2 separate regions of the Homo sapiens genome follow, and region 2 is linked to region 1. Evidence: fine-mapped expression QTL. A gene starts in region 1. The other region holds a variant in brackets. All regions are shown on one strand. Distances are between the middles of the regions.

Evidence for each region. PIP is the estimated chance that this variant, and not a neighbour inherited with it, causes the effect.
Region 2: its variant is the best candidate, but not a certain one, in a credible set for the expression of RSBN1 in T cells (TOPMed, PIP 0.87).

Annotation. Positions count from the first base shown.
Region 1 is chr1:113,809,235-113,814,619 of GRCh38, reverse strand. RSBN1 (round spermatid basic protein 1) reads left to right here and starts at 2,144. Exons shown (of 7, transcript NM_018364.5): 1 at 2,144-2,910. The coding sequence starts at 2,208. PTPN22 (protein tyrosine phosphatase non-receptor type 22) reads left to right here. Exons shown (of 21, transcript NM_015967.8): 21 at 1-809. AP4B1-AS1 (AP4B1 antisense RNA 1) reads right to left here and starts at 2,008. Exons shown (of 5, transcript NR_125965.1): 1 at 1,795-2,008; 2 at 129-233. RefSeq lists enhancers at 1,744-2,273, 2,010-2,399, 2,274-2,803, 2,780-2,869, 3,020-3,079 and 1 more.
Region 2 is chr1:113,773,274-113,778,658 of GRCh38, reverse strand. It overlaps RSBN1 (round spermatid basic protein 1), which reads left to right. Exons shown (of 7, transcript NM_018364.5): 3 at 851-988; 4 at 1,307-1,449. Among named protein-coding and RNA genes, the nearest start is that of PHTF1, 16 kb to the right of the region's middle. The variant G/T (reference allele first, on the strand shown) is at 2,554.

The sequences.
Region 1 (5,385 bases):
TGCCAGTTATTTTTATTTTCTTTTACTTTTCTACATAAACATAAACTTCAAAAGGTTTGTAAGATTTGGATCTCAACTAATTTCTACATTGCCAGAATATACTATAAAAAGTTAAAAAAAAAACTTACTTTGTGGGTTGCAATACAAACTGCTCTTGACAATGACTATTCCCTGACAGTTATTTTTGCCTAAATGGAGTATACCTTGTAAATCTTCCCAAATGTTGTGGAAAACTGGAATATTAAGAAAATGAGAAATTATATTTATTAGAATAAAATGTGCAAATAATGACAATTATTTGAATGTAACAAGGAATTCAACTGAAATCCTGATAAGTTTTAACCAAAGTCATTAAATTACCAATTCTAGAAAAGTAATCAATGAAATATAATAGCTATCTTTTGGTAGCAAAAGATATAAATTGTATATGTTTATACAGGATCTTTCAGATCATGTGCAATTTTTATCTAACCAATCAGAAATACTAGTTTAAAATGAATTTCTATATGAATATGGATCTGCCATAAGAAAATCTAGTTCAACTCTAATTTTATGTAGTAAATAAATTGGCAGGTAATTGTTTTTACAAAGAATCCACCTGACTTCCCCTAATGCATTAAAAATATTTTTATTTAAATAACTTTATTTATAACTTTTAGAAACATGTAGTATTGTTTAAACATCATTTGTTCTTCAGTATTTTTCATTTGGAAGTCCAATAGGGCAAATTGAATGAAGTATTATTATCTGTCTCTTGTAGTACAATGTATCCAACAGACACTCAATAAACTTTTTGGTTGTTAAACTGACTTCATTGCAGTAGTGTTTAGGTAATACTTCTCCAGAAACTAGTGAAATCAAACCACAGTAATTTTATCTGCTGAGTATATATCATTGTAATCAATTACTTCCAAATGTCTTTATCAATAAACAAATATACTAAAAGAATTCTAGGTAACCATGAGTTACTTAGGGCACCATGAGTGCATCTGTAGACCCAGCTACTCATTCCTTGAGCCCAGGAGTTGGAGGCCAGCCTGGTCAACAGAGCGAGACCTTGTCTCTTTTTTTTAAGAGTCAGGGTCTAGATCTGTCACCCAGGCCAGAGTGCAGTGGTGCGACCACTCCTCCCACCTTAGCCTCACGAGTACCTGGGACTACAGGCGCGTGTCACGACACCCAGATAATTTAAAAAATACTTTTGTAGGGACAGAGGCTCACTATGTTACCAACGCTGATCTGGAACTCCTGGCCTCATGCAATCCTCCCGCCTCGGCCTCCCAAAGCTCTGGGATTACCGGCCTGAGACACCGAGCCCCGCCCCGCCCGTCTCTAAATAAATACTTAAAAGAACCCCAGGTAAAAGCTAAAGCGAGGATGAAATTCTAAATGAATTTCTGAGCAACAACTATCCGTAGTGAGCAGTGATGATTTTTGGTGTGTTCTCCGGTAGGCACACTTTTCAAATTTATGCAATCTTATCCTTAAGATTTGAAAAAAAAAAACTTATAAAAAATCTTAAACGTGGTTTTCCATCTACAATTTTTCGCAACTGTAGGGATATATTCAAAATAAATGCTGGACATTTCCAGGCATTAGAGGGGATGTGGCCGGATGGCGAGGAGGGGCCGTCCTCACCAGGACTCCAAGCAGTTCTCGCACCTGACTTCGTAGGCCTGTAGTTGTAACCATAGCAATGCCCCAGATGCTTGAAAACATTTCTGAATTGCGGCCCTATCATATTTTTACAGCAAAACCACCCTTATTTTACATATTACTAAATCCTCTTTTCACCTTCATTTCATCCCTCGTCAAAGTTAAAAGGATGAAGATTCTTTTATCTCACAAAGGTTATGAGAGAAATATTAAATTTAAAATCACTGTGGAGACCACCTCCTCCGTGTAAAATGAGGAAGGGTCACAGGAAGATGATAATGGGAACGCGCCGCCAGACTCTGAAAGCCATTAACATTGTTTCGGCCGTTAGGGCGGTTGGCGGCAACTCACCGCCCAGCGGCGGTTGCGTCGCAGCCAGAAGCGTGACTTCGCGCACGCTCCCTTTCCACTCCTCCACTCAGAGCCGGGGACGCGGCGGGGGCGCGGCGGAACTACAGCTCCCATGACGCTTTGCGCGGCATAGGGTGCTTTACAATAGAAGCTCGGTTGGAGAGGCCTGCGGAGAAAAGCTGGGAACGGCCGCTTCCGGCATGTTCATCTCTGGACGAAGAACGGCCGACAAGTGGAGGGCGGAGGAGAGACTCCAATGCCCAGCGGGCAGTGCGCGGGCGGCGCTTGCGCGATGCGCGGACGGGGGGGCGGTCGGGCCATTTAAATGTGTGTTTGTGGGTGAAATGGCTGCGCAGGTCGGAGCGGTGCGCGTAGTACGGGCGGTGGCGGCGCAGGAGGAGCCGGACAAAGAGGGGAAGGAGAAACCTCATGCTGGGGTCTCCCCGCGGGGAGTTAAACGGCAGCGCCGATCTAGCAGTGGGGGGTCTCAGGAGAAGCGGGGGCGGCCGAGCCAGGAGCCCCCTCTCGCTCCCCCTCACCGGCGGCGTCGCAGCCGCCAACATCCTGGGCCGCTGCCGCCAACGAATGCAGCCCCAACTGTCCCAGGCCCTGTTGAGCCTCTTCTCCTGCCGCCTCCGCCGCCACCTTCGCTGGCACCCGCCGGGCCCGCTGTCGCTGCCCCTCTCCCGGCCCCAAGCACCTCGGCCCTCTTCACCTTCTCGCCTCTGACGGTGAGCGCGGCCGGGCCCAAGCATAAGGGCCACAAGGAGCGGCACAAGCACCATCACCACCGCGGCCCCGATGGTGATCCCAGCTCCTGCGGAACCGATCTCAAGCACAAGGACAAGCAGGAAAACGGCGAGAGGACTGGAGGGGTGCCTCTGATCAAAGCCCCCAAGAGAGGTGAGAGCAGGCAAACTGCCCGGCTTGGGTTCTAGGTCTCTCTCAGTTCCGATATCCCGCATCTTTAGGACTGAAAGACGCCAAACCCCTGCTTACCTTCTGCTGCTGTACTTCTCTAAGCTCACTGGGGTGGACCCTGGATTTCAGATCGTTGACACGGTTTGATCTAACTACTTGAGGCTTCTCGCTCCGAGGCCGAGCTGTCAGTTGCTAATCCCTTTACCGGTCCCCCGGAGCCTCTCAGCATTTGTTTTCAAATTCTGCAAGGTTTCCGCGCCGCGTTAGATTAGTAGGTGGGGTACTAAAAAATGCCTTTCCAAAGAAAAGGCATGTTCCTAAAATCCCTTCTCCTTGTTTTGCTTGCTGGAGAGCTTTAGTTATCTGCTCTCCCTTGCTCCAGAATAGTCAGGGGTATGGTTCCAGTCTTTCAGGAGGGAATTCATATAAAGGTTACACGACTCACTGGTTGACTTAGCTTCTGCAAGGTAAAATATCAGACGCAGTTTATCTTGGTTCTTTTTAATCTAGAGGTAAAAATCATTTTAAAGTTTTCATATTAGCTATTTAAATTCTTAGAATAGGCATGTGGAAGGTTTTCTCTACCCTTTGATACTAGGAAATAGGACCAACAGTGCCTCTGAAAAGTGGGAATTTGTGCAGTAGATAGTAGAGGCCGGAATTTCAGTTGCATTTGATTCTGTCTAGCACACTTTGTGGATCTGTTAATTCCAATAGCCCTCAAGAATATTTTACTAGAAAATGTCAGAGTATCCAATTAAATGTGGATTCTAGAAAAATTAGATTGGCCAGAACTGATGTCTTCCTGTTCCCAAGTACCTGTAGCATTTATTTATATTCTTTGTGGAAGAAATGTGATGCTTTTGATTATGCCGTATGTTTGTACTTTATATATTATTTTATATAATTTACTAGTTGTTTTTCCTCAGGAATATTTGAAATACTTGTTTCTTAGTACTGGACCAGTTAGGTTATTACATGTTAATGAGACAATCTTTCAACCTAAAGTTTTGTGAGTCTTGCATTCTTTCCACGTATTGAGTCTTAAGGCTAATCATTTTTTTTGGTGGTGCTATTTCCGAATACTGTAGTTCGTTGCAAATAATTGCTCAATAAGTATTTATTGAATAGCATTAAATTTTTATTCATTTGGTGGCATCCAAATCTTGGGAGTAGAACTTGTGGCAAGATGACAGGACTGCCAGTTTTCACCACCAATATGCAATGATCTTGCTCTCTTTTTATTTTTACTTTTATTCCCTACTTTCTCATTTCTTGTGTGTGTGTGTGTGTGTGTGTGTGTGTGTTTTAACTGTACAGAACTAGAGGGAATTAGTGATCCTCTGGCTTAAATTTGTATTGTAGAAAAGGAAACTGAGGCCCAAAGTAGTAAAGAGGCCTGTTCAATCAAATCACAGTTAATTCGCATGAAGTGCAAAAAAATTAAATATTTTTTAAAAAGGTGAATATTGGCATAACAGGCAGTAGAACCCAGGCTCCTGAATCCTGCTTCAAGCTTCATCTCCAGGCTTCATGATGTTGCTTTCTCTTCCTGCTATTCATTTTTTCCACTCCTTTGTTTACCTTTTCCCTGTGCTTTGACATTACAGTGGCTTTATATCATCGAGGATCTCTGACCTGGCCCCGTTTTATGGGGGATAGTGGCAATAACATGTGTAATAATTTACAATCTTTCTCTGAAGATTGCACAGGCCCCATGTTCTTTAAAAAACACACTTCTGACCTAATGCTGACTGATAGAACTTTCTCAGATGATGGAAATTTTCTGTATTTGTGCTGACCAATATGGTAGCCGTATGTGGTTCCTGAACAGACTTGAAATGTGGCATGATTGAGGAACTGAAATTTTGATTTTATTTAATTCTAATTAATTTATAATTAGTCACATATGGCTAGTGGCTACCACACTGGACAACACCACTCTAAATATCTGTAGTTTGCCAACATGTGAAGAAGAGAAGTGGGTTAAGATAAGCCCATTTAAACATTTTAACTTTTGGCTGAGAGATTGTTGGATTATATACCCAAACTATATTTTGGGTGAAAAAGAATTTTTTGGTCAAATACATTTGAGAAAAACTGTGTACTGTAGCCTTCTACATATGTAACATGAATTGGCAAACTGGCATTTTAAAAGTTTTGAAAACCCTACAGAAAATAAACTGGTTTAACTTTGTTTAATCCAGGCTTTTGCACATAGTTTGACTGATATCTTTTTTGTCCTCTGAACATCTTTATTGTTACAGTGGTATGCAGGAGGCATGCCTCTGGTATTAATCTGAGTTTAAATCATGGCTCTAACACTTACTGTGTGAGCCTGAACAAATTGCTTTACCCTCTCTCAACTGCACTTTTCCTGTCTATAAAATGGGGTTGTGGTATTTCATTTATAAGGAACTTGTGTGGATTAAATAGGGCATTGTGTGAAAGTACTTA
Region 2 (5,385 bases), 36 kb after region 1:
AGAAAAATCACTGGAGGTAGAAATAAGTTTGTCATAAGTTGAGTAGAGAAAAAGATTGGGGCCAGGCTTGGTGGCTCACACCTGTACTCCTAAAACTTTGGGAGGCCAAGGCGGGTGGATCACTTGAGGTCAGGAGTTCAAGACCAGCCTGGCCAACGTGTTGAAACCCCATCTCTACTAAAAAAATACAAAAATTAGCCAGGCATGGTGGCGCACACCTGTAATTCCAGCTACTTGGGAGGCTGAGGGAGGAGAATTGCTTGAATTGGGAGGTGGAGGTTGCAGTGAGCTGAGATCATGCCATTGCACTCCAGCCTGTGGGACAAAGAGTGAAACTCCATCTCAAAAAAAAGGAAAAAAAAAAAAAAAAGATTGGCCTGTCTTGGTAACAGTGAGCCTCGTATCCTGGTATCTGGGCTAAAGTGAAGACTTTGAAGCTAGGGAGTACAAAATGAACATGGAAGATTAATATGACTATGGTCTTTTTTTCTCCCTGCCCTGATGATTTTACTTTTATATGTTTTTTTCTTAAATAAAGATCACACTCTAAAATATTACAAAGTTAAAAAAATCATTTTTAGAGAAGTTTAAGTATTAAATAGATATTAATGTCTTCAATGTTTCTTTGAGATCTTCAGGTTAAATCACACATTGAAATTTGCTTGTGGCATATGTATTAGTGTATTTGTCAGTGTGCTTGGGTGCCTCTCTGACTTTATTCAAGGTATTGACCATTCAGTTCTTAGTTTGTAGAAGAAATGGCAACGTTGGAAACAATAACCTATTTTAATTCTTTAATTATATTATAGTTGTACCTCAGTCCATTTTTCCCTCTTTTGTTTTATCTTAGGTCAACAGGACATACTGCTGTGGCACCTACCGAGCAGGTCCTATGCGGCAGATAAGTCTCGTTGGAGCAGTAGATGAAGAAGTTGGTGATTATTTCCCAGAGTTCCTTGATATGTTAGAAGAATCACCATTTCTGAAAGTGAGTGTTAATTAAGATTATTAAAGTTTTGATCTTTACTTAAGTGGGCACTTTATATGTTGAAGAGTATTTAGCTAATATTGCCTATTGAAATTAAATTTATCCAGTGTTTTGCACAGAAATGTTTAGATAGAATAATATTAGTACAAAGTACTTAAATTCAATTATTCTTTTTAATATAAATTACTATGTAAATAGCATTTATTTCTTTATATACAGTTGTAAAAAAGCCTTCTTAGAACTTTTATTTGGGTGGGAGGATTAACTTATAAATCATTGAAACAATTTTTTAATGTGACTAATCCGTCTGATTTCTAGATGACTTTGCCCTGGGGTACACTTTCTAGCCTCCGACTCCAGTGTAGGTCCCAGAGTGATGATGGGCCTATAATGTGGGTAAGGCCAGGAGAACAGATGATCCCTACAGCAGATATGCCAAAGTCACCCTTCAAAAGACGACGGTAAATATTTCTTTTTCTCAAATAAGCAAAACTACTTTTTTTTAGTTGGTTGCTTATAAAAATGAGCACAGTTTGAAAACCATTTGTCTTGGGCTCCCTTAAGTAAATGTTTTAGTTGTCGGTTCCTCTTTTCAGTCCAATCATCACAGTTATCACAGTGAGGCATTTTTCTAAAACACAAATTTAATTTTTACTTATTTTTTAAAAACCTGTGCCCTAACTGCCTGCAGGATAAAAGATCAAACCCCTTAGTGTGGTTTACATTAATAATCAGGTCAACTGTACCTCTTCTAGATGTATCTGTGTTTAGTCTTCTCCGGCCATACCGAATTCACTTTCCAAACCATAGTCTATCATAACTCTTTGCTTTTGCACTATTTTTTTTTTTTTTTTTTTTTTGAGATAGGGTCTCACTCTGTTGCCCAGAGCTAGAGTGCAGTGGTACAATCATAGCTCACTGTATTCTTGAACTTCTGGTCTCAGGAGAGCCTCCCAAGTAACTGTGGCTATAGGTGTGTACCACCATGCCCATCTGATTAAAAAAATTGTTTTGTGTATTTTATTTTTGTAGAGATGGGGTCTCACCATATTGCCCAGGTTGGCTTTGAACTCCTGGCCTCAAATGATCCTCCTGCCTCAGCCTCCCAAAGTGCTGGGGTTACCGTCCCACAGCAAACTTAATACATTTTCAAAACTTAGCTTGAGCTGGGCACAGTGGCATATGCCTTTAGTCCTAGCTACCTGGTAGGCTGAAGTAGGAGGATCAGTTGAGCCCAGGACTCCACGACAAGATCCTGACTCAAACCCAAACCAAAACCAAACAAAACTTAACTTGGACGTCACCTCCTTTGTGAAGTTTTTCTTTCCTTCCTTAGGTAATTAATTGTTCCCTACAATGTTCTGTTCATTAAAGTTTTGTTTACATGTTTTTATTTTCTACTAACATTTGAGGTGTGCTTTGGGAAGACAGGGACTATTTTATTCATCTTTGTCCTCATGACATATACTAGGTAACCAGTATTTGCTACATGAAACCAATAATGTTCTATAGGACCGAGCCTCAGTAATTCATATTGTGCTAACATGTTTTGTGTTTCAGACTTT[G/T]AAGACAAATGTAGATTAACTCACTCTCTAGTACTTTGAAAAATCTAATTTAATGAGACTGAAAATGATCTATACCTGCTTAGACTACGAAAATAGCAATTCAAAATAAGTGCCCAGAAGTGAGTTTTAATGGACTAATCTAAACCTTAACTTAAGGCTCATAGGAGAATGATACTTGAGCTAAGTATGGAATAATCTTAGGTACTTGAAATGTATGAAAATACTTTGAAAACATTATGTACGATGCAGGGTGGTGGCATGGTAAAAACCCAGGAGTCATTTGAAAGTTCTGCACATTGCTAGATTATAGCAGTTTTTGTTGCAGGATGATGACGAATCTTGAAATCTTATTAAATTGTTAAATACTATATACATTTTTTGTTCTGTAATCTTTCCTCAAAAAATGACCATCATTTGTTTCCTGATTTTTATAAACTTAAGAAAAAAGTAATAGGAAAGAGTAAAAAGAGGGCAGGTGCAGTGGCTCACACCTGTAATCCCAGAACTTTGGGAGGCTGAGGCAGGCAGATTGCTTGAGTCCAGGAGTTCAAGACCAGCCTGGGCAACATGACAAAACCCTGTCTCTAGTAAAAATACAAAAATTAGTGTGGTGGCACGCTCCTGTAATCCTAGTTACTGAGGTGGTTGAGGCATGAGAATCGCTTGAACTCAGGAGGCCGAGGTCGCAGTGAGCTGAGATGGTGCTTCTGCACTCCAGCCTGGACGACAGAGTAAGACTCATCTCAAAAAGAAAAAAAAAAAGAAGAGTAGAAAGAAGGCAGGCTGGGCATGGTGGCTCACACCTGTAATCCCAGCACTTTGGGAGGCCAAGGCAGGCGGATCACCTGAGGTCAGGAGTTCGAGACCATCCTGGTCAACATGGTGAAACCCCATCTCTACTAAAAATACAAAAATTAGCTGGGCATGGTGGCAGCCGCCTGTTATCCCAGCTACTCGGGAGGCTGAGGCAGGAGAATTGCTTGAACCTGGGAGGCGAAGGTTGCAGTGAGCCGAGATTGTGCCACTCCACTCAAGCCTGGGGGACAAGAGCAAGACTTCATCTCCAAAAAAAAAAAAAAGGTAGCCACCATTTAGGCATATTAACCTTTCAAATTATATATAGCCATAAATAATCTTTTTACAAAATCCATTCTTTGTGTGATGTTTACTTTAAAACTTGGGAATTTTTACTGTATGGTTGTATCAAGATTTATTTAACCAATTCTTGGTTTTTGTTTTTGTTTTTTCTTTGAGACAGGGTCTTACTCTGTCACCTAGGCTGGAGTGCAGTGGCATGATCAGGGCTCACTGTAGCCCATCTCCCAGGCTCAAGTGATCCTCCCACCTCAGCCCCACCAAGTATCTGGGACTACAGGTGCCTGCCACCATGCCTGGCTAGTTGTTTTTTGTTGTTGTTGTTGTTGTTTTTGAGACAGAGTCTTGCTCTGTCACCCAGGCTGGAGTGCGGTGGTGCGATCTCGGCTCACTGCAAGCCCCTCCTCCCGGGTTCACACCATTCTCCTGCTTCAGCCTCCCAAGTAGCTGGGACTACAGCCTCCCGCTATGATGCCCGGCTAATTTTTTTTTTTATTTTTAGTAGAGATGGGGTTTCAACGTGTTAGCCAGGATGGTCTCGATCTCCTGACCTCGTGATCCACCCGCCTCGGCCTCCCAAAGTGCTGGGATTACAGGCGTGAGCCACCGTGCCTGGCCTGTTGTTTTTTTTAATTTTAATTAAAAAAGAGTTGGCCCTCACCAACTCTTTATTAGTGTAATTTTTTCCCAGGTTTTCAATGTAAACAGTATTTTGAAAACATGATACTGGTGTGCTGGAGCCAGTTTGTACCTGTTCACAAAGGCCATCATTAGCATCACTTTCCAGTTCCACATTGCGTGATGTCACGTTAGTAACTGGAAATCATTCGTGTTAGGTGTATTTATACCATAGAAATCAGCAAATCAGCTAAAATCAGCCACCTCCCCTGACCCTCAAGTCAGATGTAAAGTATATAGAGCATACCACTGATTGTATATGGATGGAAGTTTGGTAGATATGTATGTTTGTGCATATGCGTGTTTGTTTTCTTTTTTTTTAATATTTTTTGAGATGGAGTCTCACTGTGTTGCCAGGCTGGGGTGCAGTGGCGCGATCTCGGCTCACTGCAACCTCCGCCTCCCGGATTCAAATGATTCTCCTGCCTCAGCCTCCCGAGTAGCTGGGACTACAGGCATGCACCACCATGCCCAGCTAACTTTTGTATTTTTAGTAGAGACGGGGTTTCACCATGTTGGCTAGGATGGTCTCGATCTCTTGACCTTGTGATCCTTCTGCCTCAGCCTCCCCAAGTGCTGGGATTACAGGCGTGAGCCACTGCACGTGGCCATGCGTGTTTATATTCTTAGTAAAAATTCCTAAAGTCTCAAAGTATACACATTTCTAATGGGCTTCCAGAAATATACCAATTTATATACCCACTCATATAATACAGTTCCCTTTTTCTCATACTCTCCACTAACATTTTAAACTATATTGATCTGATTGGATAAAAATGTCCCATTTTATTTTATTTTAAAAAATTGTTTTAGACAGAGTCTTGCTCTGTCACCCAGGCTGGAGTGCAGTGGTGCGATCTTGGCTCACTGCAACCTCTGCCTCCCGGGTTCAAGTGATCTCATGCCTCAGCCTCCCAGGTAGCTGGGATTACTGGCGTGCACCACCACCACTGGCTAATATTTGTATTTTTAGTAAAGAGGGGTTTCGCCATATTGGCCAGGCTCGTCCCAAACACCTGGCCTCAAGGGATCTAGCCACTTCGGCCTGCCAAAGTGCTG